Homo sapiens: one gene and its partners. The protein of the gene in region 1 purifies or fractionates together with the protein of each later gene. This does not show direct contact. Each region holds a gene or a part of one and is shown on either strand. Other genes may lie near its edges. The genes, in order: PPP1R12B, PPP6R2, GMDS, IMPACT and ASB1.

Region 1 (4,320 bases):
CAACATGGCAACACACCATCTCTACTAAAAAAATACAAAAAATTAGCTGGGCGTGGTGTCACATTCCTGTAATCCCAGCTAATCAGGAGGCTGAGGCAGGGGAATTGCTTGAACCTGGAACGTGGAGGTTGCAGTGAGCCGAGATCGCACCATTGCACTCCAGCCTGAGTGACAGACCAAGACTCTGTCTCAAAAAAAAAAACAAAAAAAAAAGGGGTTTCTTCAATATAGTAGGGGTCCAGTAAATGTTTATTGAATTGTTGAATGGATTGAAGTCTAATTTGAATCATTTTTCTTTTTCCTTTAAACACTTCTGAGTATTTGATAGAGCTCCTAGCGTTATTAGAGTTCTCACTGGCCCAAAAGTGACTTGATCTAAAGAAAAGATGAACTAGATTTGAAGTCAAGACTGGGGCTGTACCCTCTGCCATTTACCCGCTATGTGGTTTTGAGAAAATTACTTAATATGTATGAACCTCAATTTCTTAAAGTCATGGTAATAATACCCACATTGCCTACTTCATAATGTTGCCTAAGACTTATGATATAATTTTATGTGAAAGCACTCTGAAAATCAAAAAGGATCTATGTAAGGTATTGAATTATCAGACCTTTCTTCTTCAGAATCAAGTATTCTATTTGGATTTAGAATTTAATTATTTAACATTTTAATATTTCTTCTTAAGTAATTTAGTTTCGTCTTACAGCACAGGAAGATTTCATGTGGATGTCTGGTTGATAGGAGAGTTTTATGGAGGCATAATTTAGGCAGATTTATGCAAATTTTAATGCACACTTTATTCTTCTATTTTCACACCCACAGCACTACTTAATAAGCTCCAGTGTGGCACTGGGAAAGTTTAAGGCTGCATGCCTTCTTTATGTTACTTAGAAATTCTCTTGCCATCCACTGGGAGTGAGAGGATGGGAGTTAGTAATATGAGTGTGAAAGAAATCCTGTTTGTTGGCATTGCTCTAGTCAGGAAATGGGGAAGCCTTCAGTCTTAATTATTGAAGTTTAAGGCACATAGAAATTAATAATGGAATATCTTAACTGAGACCATATTTTAAACTCAAAATAGAGACTTCGCTGTGTATTGAATGCCAGATGCATGGGTAAAATTTATATTAGATTGACAGATAATATTGATCCTGGATCTTGTCTACGCAGGTATTTCATTAATCACGGAGCCAGTGTAGGTATTGTCAATAGTGAAGGTGAAGTTCCCTCTGACCTTGCAGAAGAGCCAGCCATGAAGGATCTTCTTCTGGAGCAAGTAAAGAAGCAAGGTAACCTCATGGATTGGAGGGGGCCAGGAAAGATTCTCAAACACTGCCATTTACAGAAAATAATCCATTTGCTGTGCAGAGCATTTCACTATCACATGACAGGAGAGGATTTGATCTGTCTGCACTGCATTAATCATTAATCCAGCATCATGTATCCTCATAATAACTCAGACAAGAATAGGCCAGATGTCAAAAGGATGACCAATCATTCCTTGTTTTTGCCATTCAGAGGTTGCATACCCATCATACAATTAAGAGTGACCTGATGAGGACTGTGTGTATGCACAGTACTGTGTGTATGCATGGTATTGGGATACAGTGTAAATTTGAGAATTGGCTAAACTGAGTTTGTGACTTTGCATCTTTTCCCTTGTTGAGAGCTAAAAGTGGTGCTGATAAAGATATTTATTGTAACTAATCATGAGAATTAGTATGATAATTTGTTAAGGTGAGGAAGCTAACTTAGAATAATATATTCTAAAAATGCTTATTCTTATTTTATAGTTTTAGGAGAATCGATTTCACAGAATAGGATGGAATTTTTCAACCTGGAAGTCCCTGGGTTCTTTTTCCACCACAAAACTCTGCGGACAAGATTTGTAGTGATTTTTTTTTTTAGTCCTTCTGCTAAACTACCTTACTCACAATCTTGCAGTTCATCCCAGAGGATTTAGCTCCAGTGGTCTTTCCCAATATGAACTTTTAGAACAGTCAGGGCCAATTCTTGCTATGCGCATTGTTTACATATTATCCAAAACTGCTTTTGTGCCACAACAGCAGAGTTGAGTAGTAGTGATAGATTGGATGAACCACAAACCTGAAAATACATATTGGCCCTTTGGAGAAAGTATGCTGATCCTACCTTAATATAGTGATGTTCTAGGTCAGTAACTACTTGCTTTTGCTGCCTTTCATGTATAGTTTTTCTGTCCTATTTTGTTTGTTTGTTTGTTTTTTGTTTTTGAGACAGGGTCTCACTCTGTTGCCCAGGCTGGAGTGCAGTGGTGCCGTCTCAGCTCATTGCAACCTCTGCCTTTCAGGTTCAAGTGATTGTCCTGCCGCAGCCTCCTGAGTAGCTGGGACTACAGGTGTGCACCACCATGCCTGGCTAATTTTTGTATTTTTTGGTAGAGACAGGGTTTCACCATGTTGGCCAGGCTGTTCTTAAACTCCTGACCCCAAGTGATCCACCAGCCTCGGCCTCCCAAAGTGCCGGGATTAAAGGTGTGAGCTATAGCGCCTGGCTTTGTGCGCTATTGAATTGAAGAATTTTATGCTTAGCTTAACCTCCAGCCTCAATCAGTTTTATCTCCTAAGATTTGCTTTAAAATGTACAAACAACTTTAAAAAAATCAGTTTTAAAAAATAGTTTAGATTGGAGCAACCACTTTTTCTGTTTTGATTGCTGACTCTTCAATGAGGGAACATACTCTGTTGAAAGGGGTATTCATATATATGTTTAACTTTCCAGCACTGCTAACACTTCTTTGTGTTTGGAGTACTGATCTGATTTAAATTGGTTACCTCTTCACCCCATCCATCTCCCAAAATCACACAGATAATACTTAGGTAGTTGACAGGTTCTCTCTTTTTTTTTTTTTTTGAGACAGAGTCTCACTGTGTCTCCCAGGCTGGAGTGCAGTGGCGCAATCCCAGCTCATTGCAACCTCCGCCTCCCAGGTTCAAGCAATTCTCATGACTCAGCCTCCCAAGTAGCTGGGATTACAGGCGCCCACCACTATGCCCAGCTCATTTTTGTATTTTTGGTAGAGACAGGGTTTCACCATGTTGATCAGGCTTGTCTCGAACTCTGATCTCAGGTGATCCACCCACCTAGGCTTTCCAAAGTGCTGGGATTACAGGCATGAGACACCGCACCCAGCAGTTTCTCTTTTAAGAGCTGAAAGGGAGTAGACCAAGCACAAAGACTGCTAATGAGTGTAAAACTTTTTGAATGGGTATGTTTGTATTTGGGACATTTTATTATTTTGTATAATGGGGTATGCCTCACCCTAACCCCTTTTCACTGGCACAGATATTGGAGAGTTATTGGCTAAAGGGAGGAACTCTTGGAGTTCTTTCATAATGTTTTTAAGGAAAACAAAATCTGCATTCCCTTGAAAGCAGACAGGTTTTTAAACTGCAGATCACCTACTAATCTGTCCTAGATTATATATCTTCAAGTCAGTGTATTTACCTGTATATGGAAATGAACTTTAGAGATAGTTCAATTTTTAAAGTATATCAATACCTGAAACCAAGATTTTGGATACTCATCCTATGGTATAGTGAGTGGATAGGGACCCAGAAGAGGAATGACAGAGAGGGACCCAGGATATCGGAGTTCTAGCGGCAAGTTCTGTCACTAATGTGTTTTGTGGCTTTGAGCAAGATTCCTAACCTTTCTATTTTTATTTCCTCATCTGTTAAATGAAGATTGTAATATCTATTATATTTACCTTGAAGGATTGTTGGGAAACTAAAGTCATATAACATGTAAAAAGACTTGGAAGTTTATAGCTTTGTACAAATATTATAATGTAAAAATAATGTCCCCTTTGTCTTTATGTTCTGTTGAAAACAATTTTAGGTGCATTCCCTTAATGGATCTGTATCACATAATATTTAACCTGATGATTTAATCCTGGTAAGACCATTAATATGTGTACAAATGCCATTGATCTTCTAAATTTGATAATTACCCAACTTGATGGCTAAATTGTTATTTGTATTTATGTTTATGATGTGCTTTAATCTAAGGAAAATATCCTGTCAAACTTAAGTGGAGCTTTAGTAATCCTGGCTGTCTGGTATCTGGTTTCTGTAGGAGTTGATCTAGAGCAGTCAAGAAAAGAAGAAGAGCAGCAGATGTTGCAGGATGCCCGCCAGTGGCTCAACAGTGGGAAAATAGAGGATGTGAGGCAGGCTCGCTCAGGGGCTACAGCCCTTCATGTGGCTGCTGCCAAGGGCTACTCTGAAGTCCTCAGGTATTGTCCATTTACATCAATCAGGAGTGGTTCACTGGGAGAA
Region 2 (4,320 bases), on another chromosome or scaffold:
GACTTTATGGCTGTGGCCAAGTCCCCTTAGACCCTCATCATCACTGGTGCTCCCTCTCCAGCCTGAAGCTGCTCGTCACGACCAGTTGGCGATGCATTTGTCGATGTGCGTGGAACAGGTGTGGTTGGCAGGTTTTCCCCAAGGACTGTTCCGACAAGTCCCCACAGCTCCCGTGTGTGTTTGTGTGTGTGTCGCAGGGTTTCCACTCTGATGCATGGTTACATATACATGTGTTTATCTCCCATGCAGACTGGCCCTCACAGGGCAGGGGTGTGACACTCACCGCTGTCTCCCGTGCCCTGTGCACCCACGGGTCGGCACCGCCTGCTGAGCGTCGTGCTGAGCACTTTTTTCCCAGGCGACTCTCCTCCATTGCCCTTTCTCATTCATCAGGTGTCATTTCTGCACCCACTGTGCACTAACACGGGCCCGAGGAGACAGAGAACTGAGACACAGCCCCTCCCCTTTAATTGCTCCCAGTCTGGCACAGGAGGCCCGTCTGTGGACAGCGAGGGTGATGCAGAGTGGCGAGTGCAGTAGACATGCACCCAGTGCCTCGGGGCTCACAAGAAGGGACCCACATGGGGCTGGTGGGTGGAGCCTCGCAGTCAGGGACATTTTCCCTGAGAGGCCGCATCTGGTCAGACACAGCTCCTTGGATGAGGCAGTGAGGGGGTCCCAGTGTGGACACAAGCATGGGGCAGTATGTGGCAGAGGAGAGTGGAGCTTGCTTGGAGGTGCTCCTTTGCTGTGACCCCACATCGCTGTCCTGAGGTGCAGCTGTCGGAGGCTGCTGAGTCACGACAGTGAATGGGCAGAGACAGAGGAGTCAGCAGCAGAAGAGTGAGTTCGGGTGAAAGTTGAGTTTGTTTGAGGATATAGGTGCTGGAGACCCTTCTCTGACCCCCAGTAGAAATTTCAGGAAGTGTTTGAAACTGTTTCTCTGGATCATAGTGTGGCCTAGTCCTTCCCTCAAGTCATAGAAGGCTGGGCACTGCCAGAGCCGTTCAAGCAGTTGAAACTCCAAAGAGGATGCCCATGAGGCGCAAATGGAAAGACAGCCGAGTGGAGTCTGTGAGGGAGGCATTGGCACAAGGGGGTGTGGTTGGCCCGCCAGGTGCCCAGGAGATCCTATAGGGTGTGTCCCAAAAGGGCCACATCAGTGTCCTCTGGGCACTTCCCCTCCTGGCCTCACCCTGGCCCTTGAACCCCATCTCTGGATTCAGGTTCCCCACATGCCGGCAGGAACCTGATGTCTCAGGACGTTTCCGTCGTCTCCGTTCCATCACAGGCTGGGACGATGTCTAACTCTCCCAAGGTGGCCGTAGCTCCCTTATTTCCACGTTCTGGGGAGAACATAATTCAGCCCCCAACACTGATAGCCTGTGCTTTTTTAAAGTGAAAGAAAAAGGAACAATGAGAAAATGATAAGAAATTGACTTAACCTTGATAGTGAGGTTGTTAGGACTCTCTTTCTCTCTCTCTCTCTCTCTCTGTCTGTCTCTGGTAGTACCTAATACATATTTGTTAGTTTATTAACCAGAAGTAGTGTTATAATGTTACCGTTTTCTCTAGTTAGGCAACTGGAATATTGATATTTTAATCTTCATAAACCCAGGAAAGCTGAGCCACTTCTGAGGCCCAAGCTTAACCCTGTATGTGATAGAGGGGACTGTGTAAAAATCAGGAAAACAGAGATAAGCCAGCTGTTTCTCTTAGATTATTGTGATTATTATTATTATTATTTTCAGACAGTGTCTTGCTCTGTCACCCACGTGGGAGTACAGCAGCACGATCATATCTCAGCGTGGCCTCAGAGTCCTGAGCTCAAGCGATCCTCCCACCTGTCCCCCCCAAAGTGCTGGGATTATAGGTGTGAGCCACTGCACCTGGCTCTCTGATTTTTAAAATTATTTTGCATATTACTTTAAAAAATATATGATTACGTATTACTTTTACAACTGGAAAGAGTGTTTAAATAAATATCTCAGAAGACTTGCTTGAAAACACCACAGGGGGTAGGCGCAGTGGCTCACGCTTGTAATCCCAGCACTTTGGGAGGCCAAGGCGGGTGGATCACCTGAGGTCAGGTGATCGAGACCAGCCTGGCCAACATGGCAAAATCCTGTCTCTACTAAAAATACAAAAAGGAGGCTGAGGCAGGAGAATCGCTTGAACCCAGGAGGTGGAGGTTGCAGTGAGCTAAGATCGCACCATCGCACTCCAGCCTGGGTGACAGAGCGAGACTCTGGCTCAAAAAAAATAAAAATAAATAAAAATAAAAGTCGACACAGGAACAGTGAAAGAGACAGGGATAGCAGTGAAGGTTTTAAAAGTGGGACAGAGCAGGACCTCTAACTGGTGCTAGGGCCAGTGAGTCCTGTGTTGTGTCACTTGCCCTGCCTCCATATTCTCGGATGTCGCAAGCAAGCATCTGCCTGAAGGTCTTTAGTACCTTTCTCTTCTGCCTGTACCAGTCACCAGATCACGTGTGGAGACGCTGGGTAGCTGCACTGCTCTAGGGTTTCTTTTTGGGAAAGTTAAAAGGGCTCTTTCTGGAAGAAGCGGGTGCACTGAGTTGCTGGTGAGGTTGGACAGGGTCCTGGTGTCCCCGGTCTCCATCTGCTTTCCTCATCCACAGGACAGAGGGCTTGGTGGACTCCTTTTCTCAGGGACTGGAAAGGTCATACGCTGTCAGCAGCAGCGTACTACACGGCATCGAGCCTCGGCTGAAGGACTTCCACCAGCTCCTGCTCAACCCGCCCAAGGTAAATGGCCGTGGCGACTGCTGAGTGCCTTTGGAGGCGTCGCAGGAGAGGTTGATTTGCAGGGAGGAGAAGCCACAGCTTGTCCCATAGGTAGCAGAGTGTGGAGTGAATGTGTTCTAAGACGGCCATTCCCACACCCCCACTTGAGAAGCACCGGGCAGGTGCCAAAACACATTTTCAGGACTGCCCCTCCCAGATCTGCAAATGCTCATCTCTGCCTCTGCAAATGACCCCGAGGTCACCATAAGCCTGGCCTCCAAGTTGGGGGCACCTAGCTAAGGGGTGCTCGGCTCCTGAGAGGGGACCAGGGGGTGGCAGGGGAGGCCCTTTGCCCTGCTCAGCAGCATGTTGAGGGGGGTGAGGCACACAAAGGCTCCTCCTGGTTCAGACTGCCAGCCAGGCAACTCCCCATCCCGTCTCACCCTCCCCAGACACAACCCGACCCCTGCTGCATAGCACCCTCCTGACCTATAGCTCAGTTCCTCTCACTCGCCACCTTGGTAAGATCCACCTGTCCCACTAGCGAGCTCTGTGGGGGCCAAGATTCTGTTTTGTCAGCTGGAGGTTTCAGTGAAGAGAAGGTAGGTGCAGTAGGCTGAGTGTGGGGGATCAGAAAAGACCGCGGTCCATCGGAGGAGGCATTCCCGTCAGTGTCCCCAAAGTGTGTTCATGGGACACTTGTTAGCTTGGTGTTCTGAGATTGTGGCCGCAGAGGGACCCCCACTGGGCATCCTCAGTGAGGCATCGTGCCAAGGGCTCTGGCCTTAGACCGGTACTGCTGGCCCCATCTTGGACATCTCACCCGCTGAGGTGCACGGCTCTCTGGCCCTGCAGGCTCAGACTGGAGTGCCCGTGAGCATCCTGGGAGCACTCTCTGAAGCCCTGAGGGGAGCAGCAGGCTCTTCACCCCATTGATGCCTTCATTTCTTCTGGCAGACGGCCCTCCCTGAGGAACCCCCACCACATACCTCGCTACCCCAGGCTGGGTCCCAGCCTAGAGTGATGGGCATGAGCCCAGAGACTCCAGCAGTGGCCTCACTGCTCACAGGGCCTAACTGGGTGGTGCCTTCTGTGTTTGCAGAAGAAAGCGATCCTGACCACCATTGGTGTGCTGGAGGAGCCCCTGGGGAATGCCCGTCTGCATGGCGCCCGCCTCATGGCAGCACTGCTGCACACAAACACACCCAGCATCAACCAGGAGCTCTGCCGGCTCAACACGATGGACTTACTGCTGGTAAGTGGGCCCCTCAGCCAGCCCTGCATGTCTGTGAGTGTGCCGGGCATGGCCTGTGGACTTGTCAGGAGCAGCAGAGCAGGGCCCCAGCATTTGGACAAAGCTCTGCCACGGGGAGGTTCCAGTCCCAAGTCCCAAGGCTGGACTACAGGTCTCTGGCGGGGCACAGAGCAGCAGTGGGGTGTGTCTCAGCTGCAGGCTCATGGGAAGTGACGAGTCTACCGTAGAATTGCCCTGAAAGCAGAAGGCGGATTTCTAACCCGGTTTGATGGAATAGAGTGACACGTCTACCTCCTTTCTCATGTTCTGACTGAACAA
Region 3 (4,320 bases), on another chromosome or scaffold:
TATTAATAAAGCTACTTTGGGACTCATGGGGAGAGAAAGAAACATAGCTTAGTTCACAGGGTAACTAGTTAAAGGAAACAAGAAAGGAATTTATTTAGGCTGCCTTTCTCTTAACAAAATAAGTGGTGATGGCTCTTATTTAGAAACCTGCACAGCCATCCAAATGATATGATATGGCCCCTGGGCAAAAGTTTCTCTGTACTATACTTAAGGCAATGCCACTTTCCAAATTCATTTCAGTGTTATTTACAGAAAGGGCTCCTAAATTTTGTGTAATATTTTGAAATGATTGGTTGAAAGGGGCCATATCTTGATGAAAGCACTGAAATTGTTTTAATGTTCTCTGGTCTTTAATGAAAACTCTATCTGCTTTTTCAAAGATCACAAAGTTAAAAGGCACTTCTGAGACAGTTTTACCTTGTTATCTAGGTAAGGTTATGAGAAAACACCATTTAATACCAAATTCTCAAGGTAATAATACTCATATTAGCTAGTTAATAATGGATTCATACAGTTTAGATATGTGAATATCATGATTTATCACATACCAATGACTTTAACTATGTTCTTTTGCAGATGAAGCAGGGAGGCAAATATTATGATCAAAGTGTTTGGCTTCTGGAGAGCTGGCACAGGGATAAGGGGAATATTTCTAAATAGGTTTTCCAAATTTTGGCAAGAACGTGGCTTAGCGCAAGTTCAAACATACACCAGATTCACTTACTCCACAAACTTGATACGTACATTTATACCTACACCATTATCATTAAGAAATACAATGGGACTACCGTGGAAATCCAAATTTTCAATTCCCCTTGTCAATTCAGATGGTATGTTAAGAAATACAAAGTTTCAACTTTCCACAGAGGTTTATATAGCACATAGAGGTCCTTCAAAAAAAAGTGCCTTTCGAAATGAAAAACTACTTATTAGCCAGTAAGTAATTAGTGGCTAATTAGTAATTTTAAAAATTTTTCTATTGACTTGTAAGAATTAAATTTAGGTTTTTTGATGTTTATCATTATTTCAATGTCAGGACTATACTATTTTCTCAAAGTATACTAAGAAACCAATGATGGCAAACTATTAAATGAAGATTCCAACATAAAACATTTCAGATTAACCTGTTTACCAGTAAAGTAATGTTTGGGAGTCCAATGGAAGTATTTGACCCTATTCATACAATTTATTGATTCTTTTACCCAGTGTTGACTACGCACCCACCAATCACTAAGCACTGAGCTAGGCACTGGGGATCTGGGAGAGAAGCAGCAGCCCCTGCTCTCAGGTATCACAGAGAGGGTCAGGTGGGCCAATAAACCAGTGCTGAACCTAGTAAAATGCCAGGTCTGCAAGGGGGGAAAGCCTTTGGGGTTGTAGCATGGCTGCCAGGCGCAACGCACGTGAGAAATGCCTACCAGAAATGGAGCTTGAATGGAGTCTACCAGTGAGGTCATGAAGGGACTCATCAAGCTGTGAGACAGGGTGGTACTCCAGGCAGGAGGAACGGCACTTGCAAAGATGAGGAAGGGCCTTTCTCTTCCAACTCTTACCACAACCTTATGATGGTTATGGCACCTCCAATGAGGGCTATCGCTGATAGCACTGTGCTGAGCTCTTTAGATGGGGTAACTCATTTAATTTTCCGAGCAACCCATGTGCTAATATTACCCCCATTTTGTACATGAAGAAGCTGAGATTCAGGGAAGCTATATAAATTAACTATTCTAAAACAGCATTCAAATCGAGAGCTATATGACTACCAAGTTCTTATATTACCAGAACTTTCATGTCGTGCTAGAAAGGTGGATCTTTTCTTATCTGGTTCCTAAAGTTATCTTGGATAACTAGCCAAAATTAACTATAATTTCTAATTCTTTTTTTTTTTTTTTTTTGAGATGGAGTCTCACTCTGTCACCCAGGCTGGAGTGCAGTGGCGCGATCTCGGCTCACTGCAAGCTCCGCCTCCCGGGTTCACGCCATTCTCCTGCCTCAGCCTCCCGAAAAGCTGGGACTACAGGTGCCCGTCACCACGCCCAGCTAATTTTTTGTATTTTTTAGTAGAGACGGGGTTTCACCGTGTTAGTCAGGATGGTCTCGATCTCCTGACCTCGTGATCCACCTGCCTTGGCCTCCGAAAGCACTGGGATTACAGGCATGAGCCACCGCGCCCGCTCAAAATGTAATTTTAACTATTATTTAGAACAGCTATTTTGAGATATAATTCACATAGCATACAATTCATTCATTTAAAGCATATGCTTCAATGGCTTTTCTTATATTCATAGAAATGTACAACCATCATCACAATCAATTTCAGAACACTTTCATCATCCCAAAAAGAAACCCTGTATCATTTAGCAGTCACTCACCAGTTTTCTCCTAGTACCCTAGCCCTGGCATACAGATAATCTACCTTTTATCTCTAGATTTGCCTATTCTGGACACTTCCTATAAATGGAATTATATTAATGTCTGGTCTTTGTTTCTGGTTTCTTTTAGTTAGCATAACATTTTCAAGGTTCATCCATACTGTAGCTTGAATCAGTACATTGTTCCTTTTTTATGGCCAAATAATATTCTATTATATGTATATACCAAATTTTATTTAACCGTCCACGAGATGACTATCTGTGGTGCCTCCATCCTTTGCCTTTTGTGAATAATGCTACCATGAGCGTTCATGCCTTTTTGTGAACGTATGCTTTAATTTCTTTTAGGTATATACCTAGGGGTGGAATTGCTGGGTCATATGAGAACTCTGTTTTACCAATTGAGGAACTGTAGACTTTTCCAATGTGGCTGCACCACTTTACATTCCCACCAGCAGGGTAACAGGGCTCTGATTTCTTCCCATTCTCCCCAGTACTTGTTATGGTCTGTTAAACTGTAGTCATGCTAGTTGGCACCGAGTGGTATCTTATTGTGGTTCCGATGTGTCCTTCTCAATAACTAATCATATGAAGCAACTACCTTTTCATGTGCCTACTGGCCACTTGTATATCAATTTTGGAGACATGTCTATTCAGATCCTTTGTCCATTTTTAAATCGGATTACTTATCTTTTTATTATAGAGTTGTAAGAATTCTTTATACATTCTGGATCCAAGTCCCTTATCAGCTATATAATTTGCAAAGATTTTCTCTCATTCTGTAGGCTGACTTTTCACTTTCTTGGTTGTGCTCTCTGAAGCATAAAAGCTTTTTTATCTTTTAATTTTGATGAAGTCCAATTTGTCTACATTCGCTTGTGTGGCAGATGCTTTTGGTGTCATATTCGAGAAGGCTTCGTTAATCCAAGGTCATGAAGATTTATTCCTATATATTTTTATGAGTTTTATAGTTTTTCTTCTTACATTTGAATTTTTGATCAATTTTTAGTAAATTTTTATATATGGTGTGATGAAAGGGTCTAACTTCATTCATTTGCATGTTGACATCCAGCTGTCTCAGTATTATTTGTTAGAAAGGTTATTTTTCCCATTCAATAGCATTTTCCTCAAAAATCAATTAATTAATGAAAAATGTGGGAGACAATTTCTGACTTTCAATTCGATTTCATTGATGTACTTACTCTATGTCTATCCTTATGACAGTACCACACAGTCCTGGTTACTGTAGCTCTGTGGCAAGTTTAAAAATTAGGAAGTATGAGTTCTCCAACTTTGTTCTTTTTTAAGGTTATTTTAGCTATTCTCTGTCCCTTGAATTTCCATATGAACTTTAGGATCAGCTTGTTGATTTCTGCAAAAACACCAACAGGGATTCTGAAAGGGATCATGTTGAATCTGTAGATCAAAATGGAGGCTATGCCCATGCTAACATTATTGTGCCTTCCGATACATGAATATAGGATGTCTTTCTCCTTTATTTTGGTCTTTTAAAATTTCTTTCAACAATGTTTAATAGTTTTCAGAGAATAATTTTTACACTTCTGCTAAATTTGTTCCTAAACACTTTATTCTTTTTTATTTTATTATAAATACAATTGTTTTCTTGATTTCAAGAAAAAGTTTTGGATTAATTTTAAACATTTTTGTAACCACATGTTTTACTACTTAATTCTCAAGAAAGGCTTAAAATGATTTTTTTTTTAAATTTGCTCTCCTCATTTTTACTCCATGTTACAGAAGAATGCTCTTTTAAGGAAGAAACTATATAAAAGCATAGAACATGAGGGCTGAGACTATCCCAAGTGAGAGGTGAAGAAAGAGAAACGCACAGAGGCTGCACACCTGTCCTGAGTCAGGACAAGTAGCCGAGCCGGACCCAGGCCTGTCTCACTGGCTTTCTAGCCTTGTGCTGTTTTGCTAAGCCACA
Region 4 (4,320 bases), on another chromosome or scaffold:
AGCTCTCACAAATTATAATGCTATAAATCTAAGTGACTGTGATCAGAAACAGAAAGAGGATCCAGAATAAACAGATTCAGAATTAGAATGTCTCAGGAGGACCCTGGGAAGAAGATGTGACTAAGGGCCAGGGACAAAATAGGATTCCTGAGAGAAAAGACCAGAAGTCTGCACCAAAAGTTATGATCTTGACCACAAGTCAACGCAGAAAAGAACTTCCTCTTTCAGAGAGTGAAACAGCCTGGTACAAAGAGCTGTATCCCTGAAGCCCAGGGCTTTAAAGAGCTTCAAGAGTAGGGTAGCTGCAAAGACCAAAGGAAGAGACTCATGCCTAAAACCTGCAGTAAATGAGACATTTTTAAAAATGTAACTTTACAGGTAGTATTGAAATTGCCTCGTACATCAATAATGTAAGCTGAGCTACATTATAGAAGCAAGGAAGAAGAAAAGGATTCTGCTGAAAGGAGAATGAGAAAGGCAAAGACCTAGGAATAGTTTATGGCTGAAACCTCTCCCATTTATATCCCTGGGTGGAAATATGGTCACCTAAGATCAAGAAGCACAAAGGAAAGTAAGTCAGGTAGGGAGGACTTGGTTTAGCCAGTCTGTCCACTGTCCCCTTTGTTGAATAATAACAGAGGAATGGACTTAGTTTCACAGAACTCCCATTCGACAGGACAAATAATTCTTTTTGACAAGGTATTAAGCATCATAATTTTCTCTAATAACACAATGGGTATTTCTTATTTAAAGATTCATTAGAGGGTTAACCCCTAATCAGAGTTTAGATACAATTTTGAAAGCAGTGACAGGCCTGGCTAGGTGGCTTATGCCTGTAATCCCAATACCTTGGATTGGGAGGGCTGGAGGCAGGAGGGCTGATTGAGTCCAGATTGAGACCAGCCTGGGCAACATGGTGAGACACCATCACAAAAAAAAAGAAAGAAAGCAGAGACAAACAGAAACAAAACAAATCTTCCGTGATTCACAGTAATTTGGGAGTAGAAAAATGAACAAATAATTTTTATCTTATATGAAAATAAAACATAAAAGTAAAAACAAGGGGATTATTGCAAAATCATTTACCTGAATTATTTTAGTAATCATCAAAGTGAGCTAGACAAAGGAACTTTACCTGTTTGGGACAAACCACTGGAGCCAAGTGTGCCTGAAAAGTACTTCTTCGGTCTGTAATAGGAATGCCATGATCAATCGGAGGTAATTCTTCTACTTCTACTTCTAGAAATGTAAAAGAAACTTTATTTTTTAAAAAGCCTTACATTCAAATACTGAAAAAAATGAAATGGGGGGGCAGCTGGGAAAGAAATGTAAATTACATGGCAAATCAACTAAAATAACCATTAATCGCTATCTACCAAAATTAAATTTAAATTATAATTTTAAGTAAAAAGTTTCTAACTATATTGTACATAAGATTAAAATACTTGATTTATAAATGATTTCCACCTGCCAAGGTTACCCAGGGGAAGCAGTGGGTTGGGACTAATCTTGAACTGCTGCAGTCAGTAGTGTAAGTTGGTACAATATCTAATATATAATTTTTAAGAGTGTAAAGGAGTCCTGAAACCAAAGATTTATAGCTGCTAATATAAAATTTATTTATCAGTTTCACTGTTGTTAGACCTCTGAGTTGGGAAAACTATGAATTTATATTCTTTATATTGTGTAGCTATAATATAATGCCTTCTGCTAATGAAACTGTTTCTACTTCATATGATGGAATTAAATACATCAATAATACATCCAATTGGTATTCCTTAAAGAGCATCATGATTTCCAGTTATTATACCTCTTAAAACAAGTTTAAGGATCATGGCTGGGCGTGGTGGCTCACGCCTGCAATCCCAACCCTTTGGGAGGCCGAGGGAGTGGATCACCTGAGTTCAGGAGTTTGAGACCAGCCTGGCCAACATGGTGAAACCCCCGTCTCTACTAAAATACAAAAATTAGCTGGGCATGGTGGCGTGTGCCTGTAATTCCAGCTACTCGGGAGGCTGAGGCAGGAAAATTGCTTGAACCTGGGAGGCGGAGGTTGCAGTGAGCCGAGTTTGTGCCATTGAACTCCAGCCTGGGCAACAGAGCAAGACTCCATCTCCAAAAAAAAAAAAAAAAAAAAGAATCACTAATTAACCCTCAATTCTGTTGAGAGACTTAATCGTCCTGGCTACTACTACCTGCCTCACTTAGGATGAAAAGTTATTCAAGACAAGAAAGTAGGTTTATGTAAGATGTTTTACACCTTCCCTCTGATACTGTTCTTTTCCTGAATTGATTTTGACTGCTGTACTAACATAGTAATAAGTCAAATACAGTATTAGGGTCAATATGAACTACTGACCAATTGATAGTATTTATTTATGAGTATGATTTTTATCCTTTTTCTTTTCATGGTAGATCCTGTTTTCAAAAGATATCATATGTCAAATCCACACACAAATAAATGATTAAAATGGGAGCTACTTAGGCTAGAGCATAAATGAGAGCCCTGGATGCTCCCCACTCTTTCATTTCCTCTTTGTTCCCTTCTACTAGTCCTGGACACCATTCAAAAGCCTTAAAACTCAGAGCACCTTTTAAAAGCTACTGTGTAATGACACAGGAAACCCCTCACCTTCAAACAGAATGAATATTCCCCCTGGTCTACCATGTTTTCCTAAGAGGCTTAGGGAAACTAACAATAACATTCAAAATTTTAAAATATTAAAATGAAACATAATATCACAGCAACCTATTTTTATGTTGAATACTACTCGATTACGAAACAAATTTGTTTAAACGAAAACTAGGCCGGGCGTGGTGGCTCACGCCTATAATAATCCCAGCACTCTGGGAGGATGAGGTGGGTAGGTCATTTGAGGTCAGCCTGGCCAACATGGCGAAACCCAATCTCTACTAAAAATACAAAAATTAGACAGGCATGGTGGCATGTGCCAGTAATCCCAGATACGTAGGAGGCTGAGGCAGGAGAATCACTGAACTTGGGAGGCAAGGTTGCATTGAACTGAGATCGTGCCACTGCACTCCAGCCCGGGCAACAGAGCAAGACTCTATCTCAAAAAAACAAACAAACAAACAAAAACTGAACTCAAGCTGGGCACAATGGTGCATGCTTGTAGTCCCAGCTACTCGGAGGCTGAGGTAGAAGGATCACTTGAGCCCAGGAGTTCAAGGTCAACTTGGGCAACACAGCGAGACCTTGTCTCTCAAAAAAAACCTCTTAAAGGCATTTTACTAGCTTTAATTTCCAGGGCTGCACTTTCAGTTAATATATTTGTATTTGTGAGCACAGACTAAAATTTAATCCTGAAACATCAGGAAACAGCTAAGGATTTCAATACAGAAATATAAAAACATGATGTTAACTAAAAACGTTAATAGCCTTTCTTAGTTTCAATTTCTTCCATCACTAAATCAAAACTCTAGAAAGTAGGGGGAAAAGAGTAAATTTCCATTTTTTCCTTGCCATTCTGATAAGACTTGGCAAACACCAAAATTGCCAACAGGCAGGAAAAAATTAATCTTATCTGCAAATTAATAACTCCTTCCTAAAACTGGAGAAAATTAGTAAATTTCTCTATCATCTCAAAGAACAATACATAATACTACCAACCCACTCTCCTCAAAAGAAATTAGTTAGTAACATTATACCTGTCCGAGTTTCACTGATATCAAAATCCAATGCTTTAAGCGAACTTTCCGGCTGACATGCTAAAATGAGATCATCTTCACATTCAACATCTTCCTCTTCAGTTTTCTTCTTTACATCTGGGCCTATGTGAATATGAGACACAATTACTTTATGACGCAGGTAAGAAACGATGCTTTTTAAAAAAAAATCACTGGGTCTTGGGTTCTAAATACCACTCTTCAACGAAAGGAACCAGCACTCAGCCCGTAGGAGAACTGGTTGATTCCTGAGTTGGAGCAAGGAAACTACAAGATGAACCTGGAACCTCATGTGGATCCACAAACTGGGAAATGCTCAAAAAGAGATGGGGCTTATAAAAAGAACACAGGAGTTAACCTGAAGGGGCTCTTAAAGGTCAAAGCTAGAACAATTTGAGCAACAAAAAAATATGATAGGATGGCATTTTAACCCATGGACTGAAATAATATACATGAGTCCATACTGATATAAATAATAAACAGATAAATAAATACATAAATGGGAAGAGACATCCCTTCCTCATAATAGAATTCCAATTACTAAATGAGGAAGGAATGAAGAAAATAGAAAATCATCATCAGGCAAACACCACAGTAATAAATATTGTTGACAAGTTCCATGGATAGATACTA
Region 5 (4,320 bases), on another chromosome or scaffold:
TGAAACCCCATCTCTACCAAAAATACAAAAATTAGCTGGCCATGGTGGTGGGCACCTGTAGTCCCAGCTACTCAGGAGGCTAAGGAAGGAGAACTGCTTGAACCCAGGAGGCGGAGGTTGCAGTGAGCCAAGATCGCGCCACTGCACTCCAGCCTGGGCAACACTGCAAGACTCTGTCTCAAAAAAAATAAAATAAAATAAGACTGTAAACCTAGTATAATGGAAGAGGAAAGAAAAAAACAACATATAAGAAGAAAAGATATCAAATGGAAACAGTTACAAAACAGAAAGATAACAGAAACAGACCCCAACATCAGCTATAGCAATAATGTTCACTGTATTAAAAAGCAAAAACTCCTAGACAAATGGTTCTACACAAGCACAAACAGAACTACTGAAACTCCCTAGGGTTAAAACTAAATATTACATAATGCCATGTAAATGGGCCTTAAATAAAACTAATAGTACTCTTGTTTTGATAGAGCATAATATGTAAGCAGGAACTTTTATGAGTTCAATTAGCATCAAAATTTTCAAAGCAAAACCTATTCAAAGTACAAGGGGAAAAAATGGCAAAATCAAAAATGTGATCAGAGACTAACAGAATTCTTTAAATTTCTGGCAGATCCAATGACAAAAATGTAAAAAAAAAAAAGAGAGAGAGAGTGCTAACCTAACAAAGTATAATATGTAAACAAAACACCCATGGTCATGTACTTGTTTCAAGCATTCACAACAATGTAGTCTGACATTAAAAAATAAGAAGAAGCCAGCATTGTGGTGCACACCTGTAGTGTCAGCTACTAAGGAGGCTAAGGCAGGAGGGTCACTTGAGCCCAGGAGTTTGAGGCTGCAGTGAGCTATGATCACGCCACAGCACTCAAGCCTGGGCAACAAAGTAAGACCCCACCTCAAAAACTAAACAAAAATAATAATAATAATAATTTTTTTACGTCAAAGAATCCCCAAAATGAAAACTATCTGGTCCATATTATCTGAGCATAATACAACAAAAAGCATTATTAAAACCTTATCTTCCATAACTCTAAGAACAAAGAGGAAATCAACTTCAATTAGAGCTATTTAAATAATAAGGAAAAAGCCTAGAGAGGATGGTCAAAACTATAGTAAAAGGTAAATTAACGTTGCAAGTTTGCATTCTTAAGAAAAAATGAATAAGCAGTCAACTCAAAAGGGAAAAAAAACTAAAAATTAGAAAAAGATAAAAGTAAATATAAAGGAACAGGTAAGCCAAAAAACAAAGAGACCTGATAAAGCCAAGAGGCAGCTCTTTACAAAGGCCAGCAAAACAGGCGAGTCATCTAAAGAGCCGAATTCTAAAGACAGAAAAACTGCAAAATACAGAGAAGAAAAATAAAGTGGCTGCAGGAGCCAGGCGAGCTCCACAGTACTGGCCTGATGAGGGCCTTCAGGATGTCTGCCCGGCCCACGCGAGAGGCGTGGTAGACAGGGGTGCTGCGATGGTGCCGGCTTCCGTTGGGGTCCGCGCCAGCTTCGAGAAGGATCTGGGTACTCTCTAGGTGCCCGTTCACCACAGCCACATACAGGGCCGTCTGTCCTTTTACGTCCACCAGATCCACCTCGGCCCCCTTCCGGATGAGGAAGTCCACACAGCTCCCATGGCCTGCAGTGGCCGCGATTCGCAACGGTGTGCAGGGGAGCCAGCCACAGCACCAGACAGACTTCTCGTTGATGCGGCTGCAGGAGGAACACAAGGGGGCTCATGAGAGGCAGCCGCAGGACAGGGACGGGCTGCACTGCCCCCCTCACCCTGGCAGCATGGACACGGTCCCCCTCTGGTTAATAACGCCTCCACCTGGGCTCTGCCTTCTGAAATGCTCTCACACCTTTCCCCTGCGGGACCGGGGCATGGCAGGGCAGGCATTACGAGCCCCATTCCAGAGACAGGAAACTCAAGGCACCTGCAGAATGATCAGCACCAAAACTAAGATCTCTAGTTCTTAGATTTCCTGACTGCCATCTGAAGTGCCTTCCTCTACAAAGGTGGGAAGGGTCTGCCTGGGAGGCAGTGCCAAATGAACAGCGCACTCGCCCGGGAGTCTGGGTAAGAGCCCCTAGGCTGCTCTTCCCCAGTTACCATCTGTGAAGGCTTGAGGCTGGGCCTCTCTAGGCCTCAGCATCCTCACCAGGACTAGGTGACTATGTAGGCCCCCAACCTCTAACACTGCACAAATGATGGCCTGAAGGAATCACTAAGGTGGCACGGGGGCTACACCCCTGGCCAAGAGCGGCAGAGGAACCTGTCCAGACTCAGCTCTCGGCAGATGTCACAATCAGACTGCAACTGCCTGCCCCACCCACCGACCCAGCAAGGCAGCGACCGCAACGGGTTCACAGCGAGCTCCCAGTGTCACTGAGAACAAAGCTCAGAGGCCCAGAGCACCAAACCAGGGCCCAGGAACATGCAGGGGAAGCAGCTCCCAAGCCAGCCCTCGGGGCTCCTCCGCCAGCTGCGCCTAGGCTCTGACTGCCCAGGAAAGTCGAGGAACACTCCAGGAACTCATCACCAAAGAAGCAAATAGCAATGGGAAAATGTAAAGAACCAGAGATGCCCTGAGCCTGAGTAAAAGAAGGAGGAGAAACAGTGCTGGGAAATGCAATATAGAAAGACTTGGGCTGAGACCTCACCGAACTCTATTTCATTCTGTTACATCTGCAAGTTGAATTAAGGTTTTCTTTGGGCTTGAGTCACCCACTTTAAATATCTGTGCGTAATCCATCTGTCTTCCTATGACAGTCCTTTCTGGTATTTTTCTTTTAAATACTGATATCTGTTTTGATGAAATACTGCTAAGACACTAGAAGGAAATGAAGAAATACATTCCTGTACTGTTAGAAATCCTTTTCTTGGGAACTATGCAAAGAAAAGTTGTGGCATTAGTTTCGGCGCCAACATGTAGGCATTGCTTCTACCACCGCACTGGCATTTGGGTCCTGAAGGGAACGCGGAAACACAACAGCAGCATGGATAGTTCCTGGCTGCTACTGAGTTTAAGCTCTAGCTGGGACTGCAACCTTAGACCCGCAGAACAATCAGAGAACAGTCCAGAGAGCAAGCAGACTCTGCTCCCCCAGGTGTCCTGAGCAGGGAGAGGGAAGGGCAAGCATCACTTGCTGCGAAGGAAGGGCTGGAGCCATTTTGTGGGGACAGGCAGAGTTTGGCAAGGCCAGGACAGGGGACCACTGATGAGGGGAACAGAAAGGAGAAGGCTGATGAGGTAAAAGGGCCTAAGGCTGAGGCCCAGGTCCCGGGGGCAGATGACTGAGGGCCTGAGAAGCTAGAGGAAAGGGCACTAGGGAAGGTGGTGAAGCAGGGTGAATGTACAGAAGCGCCTGCAATTAAGAGCCACGAGAAACCCAAGATGGGGCAGGGCCGCCACTGAAGAGGGAAACAGTGGTACCTTCAGGAGTGACATCAGGAGGCTGAGGCCCACAGAAGGCCAGAAGTTGCCAGAAAACACTAAGGTTAATGGCAGAGCAGGACCTGAACTCAGGTCTCCCTGCCCACACTGTCTGGCTGTCTCCTACAACTCTGACCATGCTGCCTCAGTCTCCTTTATCCCCGTCCTCTAAAACTGGAACACATTCCTCCCAACATCAAGGTCTTCATCTGCACAGCGACTGTGGGGCTCAGCTTCACACAGACCTTCAGGGCCCTAGTACCCGGACCAGCCCTGGGCAGCGCCGCTCACCTCCGGTAGCTCTCCTCTTGCAATAGGCTCCTGAGGGTCTGGAGGTCCCCGACGTAAGCTGCATCATGGAGCCTCGTGTCCTCACAGTGCTCCAGCGGATGATCACAAAATTGCTCCCTCAGCCACTCCTTCAGATTACGACCTGCACTGAAGAGAGGGGCTCCTGTTAGCTCATGGAGGCCCTGCCAAGACTAACCAAAAGGGGGTGCCATCTGCAGCGAGCCTTCCCTCTCCCAGCTACGGGGCACCTTCAAATGCTCAAGAAATAAATCACAAGCTGGGCATGGTGGCACGCCTGTAATCCCAGCTACTCAGGAGGCTGAGGCAGGATCACTTGAGGCCAGGAGTTCAAGATCAGCCTGGGCAACACAGCAATACCCTGTCTGTAAAAACAAAAGAAATAAATCACAGAAAATAGTAGAAACCTTCCCTTATTAAATTAGCACACTCCTGACACCAACGCTGACAAGAATAATTTTTTAAAAGTTGATGGGGCCCAGGAACTATAAGCCAAACCTACTGAAGAATAAAGAAACAAGATCCTAAAGAAAATATCAGCAGATTGAATCAATATTGTGTCAAAGAA

Evidence for each region.
Region 2: the proteins of PPP1R12B (region 1) and PPP6R2 purify together in Homo sapiens (affinity purification with mass spectrometry; one large-scale study listed by BioGRID and IntAct). This does not show direct contact.
Region 3: the proteins of PPP1R12B (region 1) and GMDS purify together in Homo sapiens (affinity purification with mass spectrometry; one large-scale study listed by BioGRID and IntAct). This does not show direct contact.
Region 4: the proteins of PPP1R12B (region 1) and IMPACT purify together in Homo sapiens (affinity purification with mass spectrometry; one large-scale study listed by BioGRID and IntAct). This does not show direct contact.
Region 5: the proteins of PPP1R12B (region 1) and ASB1 purify together in Homo sapiens (affinity purification with mass spectrometry; one large-scale study listed by BioGRID and IntAct). This does not show direct contact.

The regions. Positions count from the first base shown.
Region 1 is NC_000001.11:202,421,449-202,425,768, forward strand, and holds part of PPP1R12B (protein phosphatase 1 regulatory subunit 12B), read left to right. Parts: intron 1-1,171; coding exon 1,172-1,290; intron 1,291-4,117; coding exon 4,118-4,277; intron 4,278-4,320. UniProt on the Homo sapiens protein: Regulates myosin phosphatase activity. Augments Ca(2+) sensitivity of the contractile apparatus.
Region 2 is NC_000022.11:50,419,613-50,423,932, forward strand, and holds part of PPP6R2 (serine/threonine-protein phosphatase 6 regulatory subunit 2), read left to right. Parts: intron 1-2,641; coding exon 2,642-2,768; intron 2,769-3,849; coding exon 3,850-4,002; intron 4,003-4,320. UniProt on the Homo sapiens protein: Regulatory subunit of protein phosphatase 6 (PP6). May function as a scaffolding PP6 subunit. Involved in the PP6-mediated dephosphorylation of NFKBIE opposing its degradation in response to TNF-alpha.
Region 3 is NC_000006.12:1,930,661-1,934,980, forward strand, and holds part of GMDS (GDP-mannose 4,6 dehydratase), read right to left. Parts: intron 1-4,320. UniProt on the Homo sapiens protein: Catalyzes the conversion of GDP-D-mannose to GDP-4-dehydro-6-deoxy-D-mannose.
Region 4 is NC_000018.10:24,439,968-24,444,287, reverse strand, and holds part of IMPACT (protein IMPACT), read right to left. Parts: intron 3,793-4,320; coding exon 3,670-3,792; intron 1,240-3,669; coding exon 1,136-1,239; intron 1-1,135. UniProt on the Homo sapiens protein: Translational regulator that ensures constant high levels of translation upon a variety of stress conditions, such as amino acid starvation, UV-C irradiation, proteasome inhibitor treatment and glucose deprivation.
Region 5 is NC_000002.12:238,433,110-238,437,429, reverse strand, and holds part of ASB1 (ankyrin repeat and SOCS box protein 1), read right to left. Parts: intron 3,877-4,320; coding exon 3,735-3,876; intron 1,720-3,734; coding exon 1,417-1,719; intron 1-1,416. UniProt on the Homo sapiens protein: Probable substrate-recognition component of a SCF-like ECS (Elongin-Cullin-SOCS-box protein) E3 ligase complex which mediates the ubiquitination and subsequent proteasomal degradation of target proteins.